Homo sapiens: one gene and its partners. The protein of the gene in region 1 interacts with the protein of each later gene in a pairwise test. Each region holds a gene or a part of one and is shown on either strand. Other genes may lie near its edges.

Region 1 (3,711 bases):
TCATATAATACAAAACATAATTTATGTTTCCTCAGAATAAAATTGCACATCTTAAAAAGATGCAGTATATTTATTATATCTGTCTTCCTGCTTCACAGTCTGATCCCCCAGGAAAGCAGCTGGAAAACAAGAGCATGTGAAGGAAGCGCAGCAGCTCCTCGCCAGCCAGACAGCCAGCCCCGCACCGCAGGAGTCGACATGCACGGCAGCCTAGACGCCATCAGTTAAACTTATATGTAGGCTTGTTGAGGAAAACGACTTTCAAACACAAGGCAAAAGAAAAACATGAAACCAAGGGTTCCAACATTCATCATCCAGTTTCAGAGACACCCTTGAAGGAATGCTACAGCCTCTTTCTTACCCATTCAAACCAGTCGCTCTGCTGCATACCCACATCACAGGAGGCCCTCAGCCCCGACACACAGGCTCACTCAGCCCGGGGACATCAGCACCTGTGCCAGCTCCGCAAGGTATCCACCATGCGGCCAGAACTGAGGCCCAGCAATAGCTGAAATGTCCTTTAAATTAACATGTACAACACACAACCCCCAAGAGCTGACATCCCCAAAGCCCCACCACAAATAGCTGACTCCTACTTATACCTGCAGGAGCAGGTAGTGACCTCTGCAATTCTAAACCGTCCACTTTGGGCAAAATTCATCAAGCTATGGATATGAAAAAAGGCCCCCAAGGTAATACTCATAAGTCTCCTGTATGACTTTTAAAGCAATTTCTTCTGAAAGTAAATGTAGTGTAGAACAGGCTTTCACAAATACAAACATGAATGTTAGGAAAAAGTCTGGAAAAAATGCAAGAGTACATGTTGTATAAAAACCAAATGCTTATAGCATATCTGTAAAAATTTAACAGGCCTCTTATCATTCCTATCAGTAGCTCCTACAATAATTTTCTAATAGATGGCGGTATGGAATACAGCAAGCTCTGGTATGAATGGTAAGAGCGTTTCTGCACCAAGCCTCATTCCAACTAGACAGGCTATTTATTTATGGCTAAACATGACATTGGATTCTGGGACTGAGGCAAATTTTACTTCTTTTTTTTTTTTTTTTTTTTTAAAGACAGAGTTTCGCTCTTGTTGCCCAGGCTGTAGTGCAATGGCGCGATATTGGCTCACTGCAACCCCTGCCTCCCAGGTTCAAGTGATTCTCCTGCCTCACCAAGTAGCTGTGATTACAGGTACCCGCCACCATGGCCAGCTAATTTTTTCTATTTTTAGTAGAGCCAGGGTTTCACCATGTTGGCCAGGCTGGTCTCGAACTCCTGATCTCAGGTGATCCACCTGTCTTGGCCTCCCGTGCTGGGATTATAGGCATGAGCCACCACGTCCGGCCAAATTTTACTTCTTAAAAGTGCTTTTCTCTCAGTGATATCAAGGTCTTCTGTCTACTATTATAACCATAAGCTCTTTAGCGTTAAGAGGAAAATGTTTGATAAATGTAATTAACTGGATGAATGTCAGTGTATTTAAATGTAAATATACTTAAATGTAATTACCTGGATGAAACAGGCACACACGAAGAAAAAAAAACTCGGCAAGGATGGGTATCATTCTGACCTCTGCGCCTTACTGAAGCAGTCCTATCCCAAACACAAAATTCCCCTGCTTAAGGAAAGGTCCACTGAGGTTGACACTGGTCAGAGGTGGCAGAGGCTCCCACCCTCACAGAGAGGAGGAGCTCCAGCCTCATTGCAGGAGGCCCAGGGAGAAGTCCTGAGAACAGCCCTGAGAGAAGGTGCTCTGCAATGGGAAACGGAAGTGGAAACAGAATTTTCCCATAAGGACCTGTAAGGCATGTTTTGCTTCACTGATAGGCTGTTCCTACATTAAAATAATAATTCAGAGATTTTTAATAAGGAATTCAAATAACAGATGATGAGCTTTATTTTTTCCTGAATGTCTGAAATAGAAAAAAGCCTAGGTGTCAATATTCTAAAGACTGACCTTTGCATTTTCCTGACATGTTGATGAAGTATTCATTCTGCCGCTTCCATTTAGTAGTAATTTATCTCCCATCCCAAAGTTCCTGAGTACAAAGACTATATACGAACTAAATTTCATTTGGAAAACTACAAACTCAAAGGTGAGCTGATAAAAAGAAACATATATTTATTTTTGCAATTATTTTCTATTTTATCTAATTGTCAAATTCTTTAATACCTCCATAAACTAGACAGTATAGATCCTTTCTAATTAACATCACCTATTAAAACTGAACTCTCAGTAAGTTAAGAGAATATTTTTACTAGCAACTCAAATGAATATTCTGAAGAGAAAAGAATTGTTCACTGCATAAATCACAATAGCAAAGAAAGGAAAAATGGCTTGCAAAACAGGAAAGGTACTGCCTTATTAACCTGGGAAATCCATTTCATATCTAACCCGTCTACTTTTTAATTCTCTTTTGGAAAGGATATGATTCATAGTCCAGCGTTTGAGTGAGCACTCCAGTCAGAACGAACTCTGCATTGTGAACATCTGAACAGGGTGGAAACAGACACTTTAGTTAGAGATCCACTGCTGTGCGTGCACACATACTCACACAGGTAAGCGGGGAAACGTACCTATGCCTCTGGCAAAATATTCTCGGCATAAATGAAGGTCATTTTCACAGGATATTAAAATTATTTCCGACAAACTCTAAGGAAAAGAAAATGAGTTTCTCAGTGACCGAACGCTGAATGTGATACAGGGCAATGACGGACTCGCTGGCGGACTCCACTCTACCCACCGAGTTCTGCTTGTGCTCCATGAGCTTCCGGAAAGATGGCTGCTTGGATAACACCTTTCCTCCTGCACACTCTACGATTGCCTTCATAGTGGAAAGACTTGGGCAGATTCCAGGTGTGATGTAAAAATATTTTGCCTAAAATTAAATGAAAATATATGTATTATGTTCTTAAAATGCTTTAATTTTTAGAGTACATAATTCTCATAGATTCTGCCCTGAGATTTTTGACAAAATTTCAAATTTTATGACATTATGAAGGTACTATTCTCCTACTAGCACTCAATCTGAAGTGGAAGAGGAATCCAGCTATGTAAATTTGGAATGTAAGCATTTTCACATGTTAAGTATGCCTGAAGATGATTTAAAGTAACCAGAACTTAAGTCCCTAAAACAAAGTGTTTTGTGAATAAGCAAGAATATTACAAATATTTTTCACAATTTCTATACAATTTTAAATCAGCATTATATTTCACCACACTTATCTGCCCAGCAACAGCCTCTGGCATAGCATGCTGCCTGGCTTATATCCCTTTTCTTTATTTTCTCCATATTATTTGAACTCAGAGCAGGAAATGATATTGATGCTTAAGATTTAATTATCTAACAAGATTGCTCCTGAGGATACCACAAAATACTATTCTGTCTGAAACTGCAAATAATTTCTAATTCCTGTTGACTCCTTAAGAAGGTTAAAGAACCGATTATCTTTATTGATTTACTTAGTTCTTTGGTACAAAAAAAATTCCTAGCTGTTCTAACACTTATCTAACATTTAAAAATCTTTTAGTACTGAATTATATCTATGCACACACTGAATATTTTCCCAAGTATCTTCTCCAGCTGAATATACATTTACTGACAATAGTACGAAGTAAGCGATGTCCTCTAAAGATTTATTAAAAGCAGAAAAATGAACATGCCTCTTAACCAATTACTCAAAAACCTATTCTTTGAATAACTT
Region 2 (3,711 bases), on another chromosome or scaffold:
CAATAAATGTGACCTGGAAGATGAGTGAGTAGTTGGCAAAGAACAGGGCCAGAATTTAGCATGACAGTGATGGAACTGTGCCATTTTAGAATAATCTGCAAAGTCAAAGGTCAATGTTAATGAAATATTTTATGACCTGGTCAGACAGATAAATAGAAAAACACCAGTGGAAAAGAAACAGCCTAAAAAGAAATCATGTCTGCTGCTCTAGGCCCATAGTCAGCAGCAGCTCTGAGCTAGGTTACAGGAATGAAGAACTATTGCCTAATTGGAAAGTGCCAGCATTCCAGACTTCAAAAAATAAATTTGAAGAGGCTTCTCCTGTTTTATACATTATGTGAAGAATTTAGATCTTATATTGGTTTGTATAAGTTCCCTGGAGAAAAAAAACTGCTCTGTGTATATCTCTTGGAAAATAAGACATAACAGATGTGAAAATATACTTGACTCTAATATGATTATACAAAAGAGCATGGATGCATTTCAAATGTTAGATATTGCTACTATAATCAAATGATTTCATATTGACCTTTTTATCATGATTCCTCCCTATCAAGCACTAAAAAGTTGAACCATCATACTTTATATCTGTAATGATATTGATATTGCAGTAGATAACTTTTTTGAATCAATTACCTCATTTTATATTTTAAAAATTATGGAATATCCTCTGTCATTATATTCTAATTGAAATTGTGCATAATGCTTTGGAAAAATGGGTCTTTTATAGGAAAAAAACTGGGGTAACTGATTTCTACGACTTTCAAAGCTAAAATATACAATATACTAAACCAACTCTAATATTGCTTCTTGTGTTTTACTGTCAGATTAAATTACAGTTCTTATGTATGATTAAATTTTAGTATATTAAAAAACAAATGGCATCATTAGGCCCAGGCTAACCATCAGGTCATAGTGAAAGAATGAAGAGACACAGAGAAAAAGACCTGCCCTACCTCCTGATGCCTAACACCGCACCTATCTCCTTTCCCTCGGGCTTCTTCTTCATCATAGAGATAAGGGGCCCTTTACCCCCATCTCTGCTTCTTGCCCACTGCCCTCAGAACTCTAATCCAGTCCCAAGGCCTCCCGTGTCCTCAATAATGGTATCACTTACAGAGGGATATTCGCTTTTCACTGGTAGTTTATTCAGGTAGCTATAGGTCTTGTCTTTTTGGATAGGGCAGTTAATTCCACTCTTACAACCATCAGGCTCAGGAATGGGAAAGGGAACTGGGACGCCCATCAGGATGCCATGCACCACGGCCTTGCTGCTTTTAGACTGAATATCTAAGAGAAAAAAAGAGAATCAGATGGCAAAGAAAATAACCTATTTTCAAACTCTAAATCAAAAATTCAGAAATAATCCCAAGCAACAGCATTCCTAGGGTCTATTTCTCTTGATAGTGGTGCTTGGTACTAGCACAGTGCAAGCATTCACTCCAAACACAATTATGCAAAAAAAAAAAAAAAAAAAAAAACAATCAGCAGAAGTTTTCTTTGCTCTTAACCTTGCTCTTCATGGCCCTTCACAGTTTCTTAGGAGAATCAGAGATACCTGGATAAACAACCTTATCTAACAAGGCAACTGATTTTTGGCAGTAAACTTTCTGTTTGCTATTTATATCAGCTTCTGTCCAAGTATATTGTGTGTCTTAAATGTCATGGTCTGTAACAACAGTGAAAGAGGTAACCCTTTAGCAGGGTAAGATTAGGCTGGATCACAGTAGCTCCCACCTGTAATCCCAGCACTTTGGGAGGCTGAGGCGGGTGGATCATCTGAGGTCAGGAGTTTGAGACCAGCCTGGCCAACATGGAAAAACCCTGTCTCTACTAAAACTACAAAAATTAGCCGGGCGTGGTGGCGCATGCCTGTCATCTCAGCTACTCAAGAGGCTGAGGCGGGAGAATCGCTTGAGCCCAGGAGGCGGAGGTTGCAGTGTGCTGAGATTGCGCCACTGCACTCCAGCCTGGGTGACAGAGCGAGACTCTGTCACAAAAAAAAAAAAAAAAAAAAAAAAAAAAAAGAAATTGGGTAAGATTAGAAAGACATGCAATTCTTTATAAACTTTACCCTCCACATCACAAGATGGCCAGGAGGAATAAAGGTATTAAAAAATGAGGGCAATCAGACTTATGAGTTATTAGGGTATTTTGGAGACCCAGAAAATTGGTTCTGTTTCTTTCCTTCTGTCTGGGTTGGGGATGACTTGTTCAGAAGGCTTTTTTTTTTGGTTTGGAACAATAGAGAGGCCAGGGTATAGTCCAGAGAGGAAACAGGGAGCTAGTACTTAGAGCTGTCTTTAGGCTTATGAACAAAAGATGACAGGAACTTTGAGGTTTCTTATTAGACTGTCTAGTCTAGTTTCACAGGACAGAAAATGAGGAAAAGATTCAAGGAACATGCCCTGCTTAGTAATAAAAGATTTTACATTTGTCTAGATTCTTAAAAATCTCAAAGTGATGTGGTACAAGAAAGCAAAAAGTTCCAATGATATTTCTTGAATATTGGAGAAGAAAGCTCAGATTTCTTGGCTATTTCTTGGGTCCCCAGTGGGTTCCCTAAATCTTAAGGAGGCTGTTAAGTATTAGTTGCACCTTTATTTTCAGGTGGGATGTAGACTTAATAGCTGAAAGGCATTACTGCTTAAAACAACATTTTGGAGGAGTTCCAAAGCTTAAAGAATTGGGGTCCATACTAATACTCTGCAGTCTGTAGCTAAACAGAGCTGACATTCCCATCATAGCCTACTATGCAATATGGGTCAAGACAGAAAAGCCAAGCTGTCTTCTCTAACCTGTGAACACATGGACATCTCCCTGTTTGCTTAAAGGGAGTCTGGGAGCCATGGACCCTGCATGAGAAGGGTGTCCAAGGGCACAGTGAACCCTAGCTTTGCATGAGGTGCAAAAGAAATCATAAAATTCATGACTGCCAATTCCCCTCCCCTCCATTCCCATGCTTATTCCAACACTTGATATTTAGGTTATGCTGTAACATGAATTTGAGTTAAGAGCCACTTTTACGCACTGCTGGTGAAGGTGACATTGACGCTGTAAGACTGTCCTTTGCTCAGCTGGCAGGGTTGGGTGGGGCATGGGCTCACATTCACTTCCTTTATAACTCCATCCACAGAACCTGCAAAAGAAAAATGAATTGGAATAGGAGAATAGGAGGAGAAATAAGCCAGCTAGGCTGCCCACCACCTAATGGGAAGGTGCTCTGCTCTCCCATTTAGGGTCAACTCATTCTCCTCGGACTGTTTCCCAGGATGGAATCTTTAAGAATAATGCCCAATTAGAAGTCAGAATCTTGATTCATCTTGCTGCTAAAATCATAGCCTTTAATTCAGATGATAAAGAAGCTAGTTGGTTTTTTGATCAAGAGAAAGTTAATATTTGTCAAACTAAATAATATCAAGACCATATCCATAAATGATCATATTAAAGGAATTAAACTTCAATCAGAGAAATTCCAAACATTCCTAGAGTCTTATCTCGCATTCTTAATGGTAAGGGTCACAGTTTAAACTTAAACCTTGAAGACGTTTGCTTCAACCTTCCTTTGGATGAAAATATTCCTATTTTCCCTTTCTTTTTCTAGCATATAGATTAGCATGTAAATCTGATGAAAGTTGTTCACTACAGGAACAACTACATTTTTTTTTTTTTTGAGATGGAGTCTTGCTCTGTCACCAGGTTGGAGTGCAG
Region 3 (3,711 bases), on another chromosome or scaffold:
CCATGCCCGGCTAATTTTTTGTATTTTTAGTAGAGATGGAGTTTCACCATGTTAGCCAGGATGGTCTCAATTTCCTGACCTGGTGATCCACCTGCCTCATCCTCCCAAAGGGCTGGGATTACAGGTGTGAGCCACTGTGCCTGGCCGCAAGGTTCTTTAAGAGGTTGGTTAAGTACTTTCAAGTATTTTACCTGCCTTGAGGTCATATTCAGAGAGAAAGACAGATGCTTGCTGGGTAAGCAGTGTCCTAACTTGTAGTCCCTCAGCATTCATGGTGCTGACCATCGGGTGAGAGAGCATGTCATTAGTTTGCTTAGACATGAATGCAAATAGCAAGAACCTGGGGATAGCGAGCAAAAGGGAATCAAGTGGAGGCAGCCACCTCGGCCTCATTGTTCTCATCCCATCTTACTTCGCATACCCTTTAAGGGGGAAAGTCTGTGCTGTGTTGGTCTTTTTAAAATTTGCGGATTTGAAATGTTATACTTGGTGGATGACAAGGGTCTACTGTGTTGGTTTGTTTTTTCATTGTCTTTTTTCTTTTTTTTCAGTGGAGTCTCACCCTGTTGCCCAAGCTAGAGTGCAGTGGCATGATCTCGGCTCACTGCAACCTCTGCCTCCTGGGTTCAAGCGATTCTCCTGCCTCAGCTTCCTGAGTAGCTGGAATTACAGGCACACACCACCATGCCCAGCTAATTTTTTTTTTTTTTTTTTTTTTTAGTAGAGATGGGTTTTCACCATGTTGGCCAAGCTGGTCTCGAACTCCTGACCTCAGGTAATCCACCCACCTCGGCCTCCCAAAGTGCTGGGATTACAGGTGTGAGTCACCACGCCTGGCCTCTCTTTTCTTTTCTTTTTTTTTCCTTTTTGAGGGAGGGTCTCACTCTGTTGCCCAGGCTGGAGTGCAGTGGCGTGATCATGGCTTACTGCAGCCTCAACCTCCTCGACTCAGTTGATCCTCCCACCTCAGCCTCCCAAGTAGCTGGGACAGCAGGTGCATACCACCACGCCTGGCTAATTTAAAAAAAAATTTTGGCCAGGCACGGTGGCTCACGCCTGTAATCCCAGCACTTTGGGTGGCCGAGGTGGGTGGATCACGAGGTCAGGAGTTTGAGACCAGCCTGGCCAACATGGTGAAACCCCATCTCTACTAAAAATACAAAAATTAGCCAGGCGTGGTGGTGCACGCCTGTAGTCACAGCTACTCAGGAGGCTGAGGCAGGAGGATTGCTTGAACCCGGGAGGCAGAGGTTGCAGTGAGCCGAGATCATGCCATTGCACTCCAGCCTGGGCAACAGAGTGAGACTCCATCTCAAAAAAAAAATTTTTTTTTATAGACACTGGGTCTTTCTTTGTTGCCCAGGCTACACTGTGTTTTTTATGTTTGCAAGGGATCAACAGTAGGACTAGTGACAGTTCTTGGCCCAGAAAGGTCAATCAAAGCCTTCTTTTTGCCTCTGTATAAAGAAATCTCAGTGGTATTTTTAGTTATTACCGTCCCTTGATTCCTTTTCTTTCACCTCTCCCTGTACATCAGAAAGTCCACTGAGTTTCTTTAAATGAGTTGTTTCTTCTTGTTTCCCATAGGCAAACCAGAACCATTGGTGTTCCACATTCCTCAGTCATTTTTTGATGCCCTGCAACAAAGAATATCTATAGGAAGTGCAAAAAAACGGCTCCCCAACTCCACCACAGGTACAGGATTTCCCTTTGGTATAGTGATGGATGTCTCGAACATAGAGAATTATGTTTGGAAAAAATCTGTGTGGAATATTCACCGTGAGTATTCAGAGTTAGGACTTCTACTCACATGTCTGGAGCACAAAGCCTTCAATGATCAGCATATCAATTATCTACATCAACTGATTTGTCACCAAAACCTTTTATATATTTGCCTCTAGAATTTCTTTTTAAAAGTGCTGAGAATCTATAAGGAAATAATAGTACTGTATTAGAAACTAGGTAACAAATACAACAAAAGAAAATGTTATTTTTTGGTAATCTAATTTTGTCCTTTTTTCACGTTGAAGCTTTTGTTCGGAAAGATGCCTTGCCACTGGGAACCTTTTCCAAGTATACTTGGCATATCACTAATATCCTGCAAGTTAAACAAATCTTAGATACCCCAGAGGTGAGAGTTTATTTCTATAACAGTGGGAGGGTTGTGAAGGGAAGAGAGGGAGGCAAGTACAGGGACTATATTTGCACTGGTTCCTTGAGTTACAGACACCAGAGTTTCTTTTTTTCATGCTAAGAGATATTCAGAAATATCCCTGGCTTTATAGTTCTGACTCCAATTTTAATGTGTGTTCCCTATGGCTTGAAAAAAGTATCTTAAATTGGAATATACTTTTCCTTTGCCTTTGGGATTAAAAAAACATAATTTTTCTTATAAATTAAATAATGATCCCCTAATACTTATGATGAGTCCTAGATTTGACTGGCAGGCAGCTAGAAAGTATATAAATAATTTGAGATGATATAATATTTGTGAAGTCAGTGGCACCAGCACAGTTAAACCCTCCTCCCCAAACTACAGCTTTGTTCTCATTAGAGAAATGACCCTTTTTATTTTATTTTATTTTATTTTTGGGATGGAGTCTTGCTCTGTCACCCAGGCTGGAGTGCAGTGGCGCAATCTTGGCTCACTGCAACCTCTGCCTCCCGGGTTCAAGCAATTCCCTTGCCTCAGCCCCCCGGCTAGCTGGGATTACAGGCACGTGCCACCATACCCGGCTAATTTTTGTATTTTTAGTAGAGACAGGGTTTGACCATGTAGGCCAGGCTAGTCTCAAATTCCTGACCTCATGATCCTCCCAAACTGCTGGGATTACAAGGCATGAGCCACTGTGCCTGCCCGAGAAATGACCCTTTAAAAAAAATTTTTTTTTGGTCTTTTTTTTTTGAATTTTGGTTTTTTTGGGACAGAGTCTTACTCTGTTGCCTAGTCTGGAGTACAGTGGTGCAGTCACGGCTCACTCTACCTCCACCTCTTGGGATCAAGTGATCCTCCCACCTCAGCCTCCTGAGTAGCTTGGACTACAGGCATATGCCACCATGCCCAGCTAATTTTTGTAGAGATGGGGTTTCCCCATGTTGCCCAGGCTGGTCTCAAATTCCTGGACTCGAGCAATCTGTCTGCCGCAGTCTCCCAAAGTGCTGGGATTACAGGCATGAGCCACCAGGCCCACCCTATTAATTAAAAAAAAAAAAAAATTTAAGATAGGGTCTTGCTATGTTGCCCAGGCTGGTCTCAAATTCCTGGGTTCAAGCAGTCCTCCCATCTTGGCCTCCCAAAGTACTGTGATTACAGGTGTAATCTGCCTCTTCCAGCCACACTAGACATTTTATGTTTTTATTTTTATTTTTTGGAGACAGAGTCTCTTGCTCTGTTGCCCAGGCTGCAGTGCAGTGGCACGATCTCGGCTCACTGTAACCTCCACCTCCCAGGTTCAAGCAGTTCTCATGCCTCAACCTCCTGAGTAGCTGGGACTATAGGCACGCACCATCATGCCTGGCTAATTTTTGTATTTTTAGTAGAGACAGGGTTTTGCCATGTTGGCCAGGCTGGTCTCAAGCTCCTGATCTCAAGTGATCCGCCCACCTTGGCTTCCCAAAGTGCATGGATTACAGGCGTGAGCCCCTGTGCCTGTCTTACACATTTTAAAATGTTTTTCGGGCTGGGTGCGGTGGCTCACGCCTGTAATCACA
Region 4 (3,711 bases), on another chromosome or scaffold:
GCCTAGGGGCATGGCCCCAGGCAGGTCCTCTCCTGTTCATTTCTCCTCTTATAGAAAAAGTGATTTACCAGATGATCTTTAAAGCAAGCTCTCCCAGCCCTGACATGTATCTCTGCAGCAGGGTTTCTCTACCTCAGTACTGTTGACATTTAGGGCTGAATATTTCTTTGCTGTGGGGGCTGTCCTGTGCATTGTAGGACGTTTAGTAACATCCCTGGTCTCTACCCACTAGATGGCATACCACCCCCGTTGTGACAATCAAAAATGTCTCTAGACTTTACCAAATGTCCCCTCCAGAGCAAAATTGCCCCCAGTTGACAGCCACTGCTCTAGACTAAGTTTCTTGCTTCCAAATAGAGCCTTACCAAAGTGTATTACATAAAGAAGTCAAGTGGTTTTACTCCTCATGACCAAATATTCTTTCCCTCCTTAGGATGAGGTGGTAGTAAATGACCGATGGGGTCAGAACTGTTCCTGTCACCATGGAGGATACTATAACTGTGAAGATAAATTCAAGCCACAGAGCTTGCCAGATCACAAGTGGGAGATGTGCACCAGCATTGACAAGTTTTCCTGGGGCTATCGTCGTGACATGGCATTGTCTGATGTTACAGAAGAATCTGAAATCATTTCGGTAAGAGCACCTTTGAGTTTTTTGTTTTTGTTTTTTTTTTTTTAACATGCAGTATGATTTATTTTATATAATGTTCAAAAGCTTGCAAAAACAGCATATTGTTTACAGATGCATATTTTGGAGGTAAAATTATGAAGAAAAGCGAGATCATTATAAACAAAATTTAGGAGGGGGCTGGGATGGAGAAGGGCATGCAAAAGGGCTTTAACGGTGTTGGTTGTAATCTATATCTTAAAGTGGGTGTGGGTAGTAGGGTGTCCAGTTTTTTATTTATTTATTTATTTATTTATTTATTCTTTATTGATCATTCTTGGGTGTTTCTCACAGAGGGGGATTTGGCAGGGTCATAGGACAATAGTGGAGGGAGGGTCAGCAGATAAACAAGTGAACAAAGGTCTCTGGTTTTCCTATGCAGAGGACCCTGCGGCCTTCCGCAGTGTTTGTGTCCCTGGGTACTTGAGATTAGGGAGTGGTGATGACTCTTAACGAGCATGCTGCCTTCAAGCATCTGTTTAACAAAGCACATCTTGCACCGCCCTTAATCCATTTAACCCTGAGTGGACACAGCACACGTTTCAGAGAGCACAGGGTTGTGGGTAGGGTCACCGATCAACAGGATCACAAGGCAGAAGAATTTTTCTTAGTACAGAACAAAATGAAAAGTCTCCCGTGTCTACCTCTTTCTACACAGACACGGCAACCATCCGATTTCTCAATCCTTTCCCCGCCTTTCCCCCCTTTCTATTCCACAAAACCGCCATTGTCATCATGGCCCGTTCTCAATGAGCTGTTCGGTACACCTCCCAGACGGGGTGGTGGCTGGGCAGAGGGGCTCCTCACTTCCCAGTAGGGGCGGCCGGGCAGAGGCGCCCCTCACCTCCCGGACCGGGCGGCTGGCTGGGCGGGGGGCTGACCCCCCCACCTCCCTCCCGGACGGGGCGGCTGGCCAGGCGGGGGGCTGACCCCCCCACCTCCCTCCCGGACGGGGCGGCTGGCCGGGCGGGGGCTGACCCCCACCTCCCTCCCGGATGGGGTGGCTGCCGGGCAGAGACGCTCCTCACTTACCAGACGGGGTGGCTGCCGGGCGGAGAGGCTCCTCACTTCTCATATGGGGCGGTTGCCAGGCGGAGGGTTTCCTCACTTCTCAGATGGGGCGGCTGGGCAGAGACGCTCCTCACCTCCCAGACGGGGTCGCGGCCGGGCAGAGGCGCTCCTCACATCCCAGACGGGGCGGCGGGGCAGAGGCGCTCCCCACATCTCAGACGATGGGCGGCCGGGCAGAGACGCTCCTCACTTCCTAGATGGGATGGCGGCCGGGAAGAGGTGCTCCTCACTTCCTAGATGGGATGGCGGCCGGGCAGAGACGCTCCTCATTTTCCAGACTGGGTAGCCAGGCAGAGGGGCTCCTCACGTCCCAGACGATGGGCGGCCAGGCAGAGACGCTCCTCACTTCCCAGACGGGGTGGCGGCCGGGCAGAGGCTGCAATCTCGGCACTTTGGGAGGCCAAGGCAGGCGGCTGGGAGGTGGAGGTTGTAGCGAGCGGAGATCACGCCACTGCACTCCAGCCTGGGCACCATTGAGCACTGAGTGAACCAGACTCCATCTGCAATCCCGGCACCTCTGGAGGCCGAGGCTGGCGGATCACTCGCAGTTAGGAGCTGGAGACCAGCCCGGCCAACACAGCGAAACCCCGTCTCCACCAAAAAAATACGAAAACCAGTCAGGCGTGGTGGCGCGCACCTGCAATCGCAGGCACTCGGCAGGCTGAGGCAGGAGAATCAGGCAGGGAGGCTGCAGTGACCCGAGGTGGCAGCAGTACAGTCCAGCTTCGGCTCGGCATCAGTGGGAGACCGTGGAAAGAGAGGGAGAGGGAGACCGTGGGGAGAGGGAGAGGGGGGAGAGGGAGAGGGAGAGGGGAGTTTTTTGTTTTTTTTAATGAAATGGGGTCTTGCTCTGTCATGCAGGCAATAGCGCAGTGGCACGATCATACCTCACTGTAACCTCAAACTCCTGGGGCTCAAGTGGTCCTCCCACCTCAGCCTCCTGAGTAGCTAGAACTACAGGTGTGCACCTCTACAACCAGCTAATTTTTAAATTTTTTGTAGAGACAGGGTCTTGCTATGTTGCCCAGGCTGGTCTCAAACTCCTGGCCTCAAGAGATCTAGCCTCAGCCTCCCAAAGCACTGGATTACAGGCATGAGCCATGGCAGCTGGCCTGAGTTCACTATTTTTTAACTATGGATCTCAAACCACTTTTTATTATTATTATTATTATTATTACCTTCTAACATACTATATGATTGATTTTAATTATTTTTTTCCTCTTTTTTTAAATTTTACTTTAAATTCTGGGATACAAGTGCAGAGTGTGCAGGTTTGTTTCATAGGTATACATGTGCCATGATGGTTTGTTGCAAACTATCAACCCGATATCTAGGTTTTAAGCCCCACATGCATTAGGTATTTGTCCTAATGCTCTCCCTCCCCTCACCCCCACATTCCAACAAGCCCTGGTGTGTGATGTTCCTCTTCCTGTGTCCCATGTGTTCTCATTGTTCAACTCCCACTTATGAGTGAGAACATGTGGTGTTTGGTTTTCTGTTCCTGTGTTAGTTTGCTAAGAATGATGGTTTCCAGCTTCATCCATGTCCCTGCAAAGGACATGAACTCATTCTTTTTTATGGCTGCAAAACCAGCTTTTTTATGTAAGAGTGATGTCCAGCTTCATCCATGTCCCTGCAAAGGACACATTCTCTTTTATGGCTGCAAAACCAGCTTTTTTATGTAAGAGTGATGGAAGTACTCTGGATAGAAGTGCAGGTCAATAGAACCCTTTTAAGGACATTGAATAGACTAACAGAAACCTGTCCTAAGGAAATAATTAGAGTTACACAAGAAAGTTGTGCAGAGGTCCTTCCCAGGATTATTTGTATGTATGTATGTATGTATGTATGTATGTATGTATGTATGTATGTGTATATTTATTTATTTATTTATGAACGAACTTCACTCTGTCACCCAGGCTAGAGTGCAGTGGTGCGATCTCGGTCTGCTGCAACCGCCGTCTCCCGGGTTC

What was found.
Region 2: the proteins of PAXIP1 (region 1) and NPC2 interact in a two-hybrid assay, tested with the Homo sapiens proteins (one large-scale study listed by BioGRID).
Region 3: the proteins of PAXIP1 (region 1) and C2orf42 interact in a two-hybrid assay, tested with the Homo sapiens proteins (one large-scale study listed by BioGRID).
Region 4: the proteins of PAXIP1 (region 1) and FUCA1 interact in a two-hybrid assay, tested with the Homo sapiens proteins (one large-scale study listed by BioGRID).

Annotation. Positions count from the first base shown.
Region 1 is NC_000007.14:154,943,929-154,947,639, forward strand, and holds part of PAXIP1 (PAX-interacting protein 1), read right to left. Parts: intron 2,925-3,711; exon of another isoform or gene 2,886-2,924; coding exon 2,751-2,885; exon of another isoform or gene 2,665-2,750; intron 2,660-2,664; coding exon 2,584-2,659; intron 2,566-2,583; exon of another isoform or gene 2,498-2,565; coding exon 2,437-2,497; exon of another isoform or gene 2,432-2,436; intron 693-2,431; exon of another isoform or gene 237-692; coding exon 221-236; 3' UTR 1-220.
Region 2 is NC_000014.9:74,483,298-74,487,008, forward strand, and holds part of NPC2 (NPC intracellular cholesterol transporter 2 isoform 2 precursor), read right to left. Parts: intron 3,140-3,711; coding exon 3,032-3,139; intron 1,291-3,031; coding exon 1,118-1,290; intron 1-1,117. UniProt on the Homo sapiens protein: Intracellular cholesterol transporter which acts in concert with NPC1 and plays an important role in the egress of cholesterol from the lysosomal compartment.
Region 3 is NC_000002.12:70,163,512-70,167,222, reverse strand, and holds part of C2orf42 (uncharacterized protein C2orf42), read left to right. Parts: intron 1-1,587; coding exon 1,588-1,695; intron 1,696-2,030; coding exon 2,031-2,131; intron 2,132-3,711.
Region 4 is NC_000001.11:23,851,283-23,854,993, reverse strand, and holds part of FUCA1 (tissue alpha-L-fucosidase precursor), read left to right. Parts: intron 1-433; coding exon 434-634; intron 635-3,711. UniProt on the Homo sapiens protein: Alpha-L-fucosidase is responsible for hydrolyzing the alpha-1,6-linked fucose joined to the reducing-end N-acetylglucosamine of the carbohydrate moieties of glycoproteins.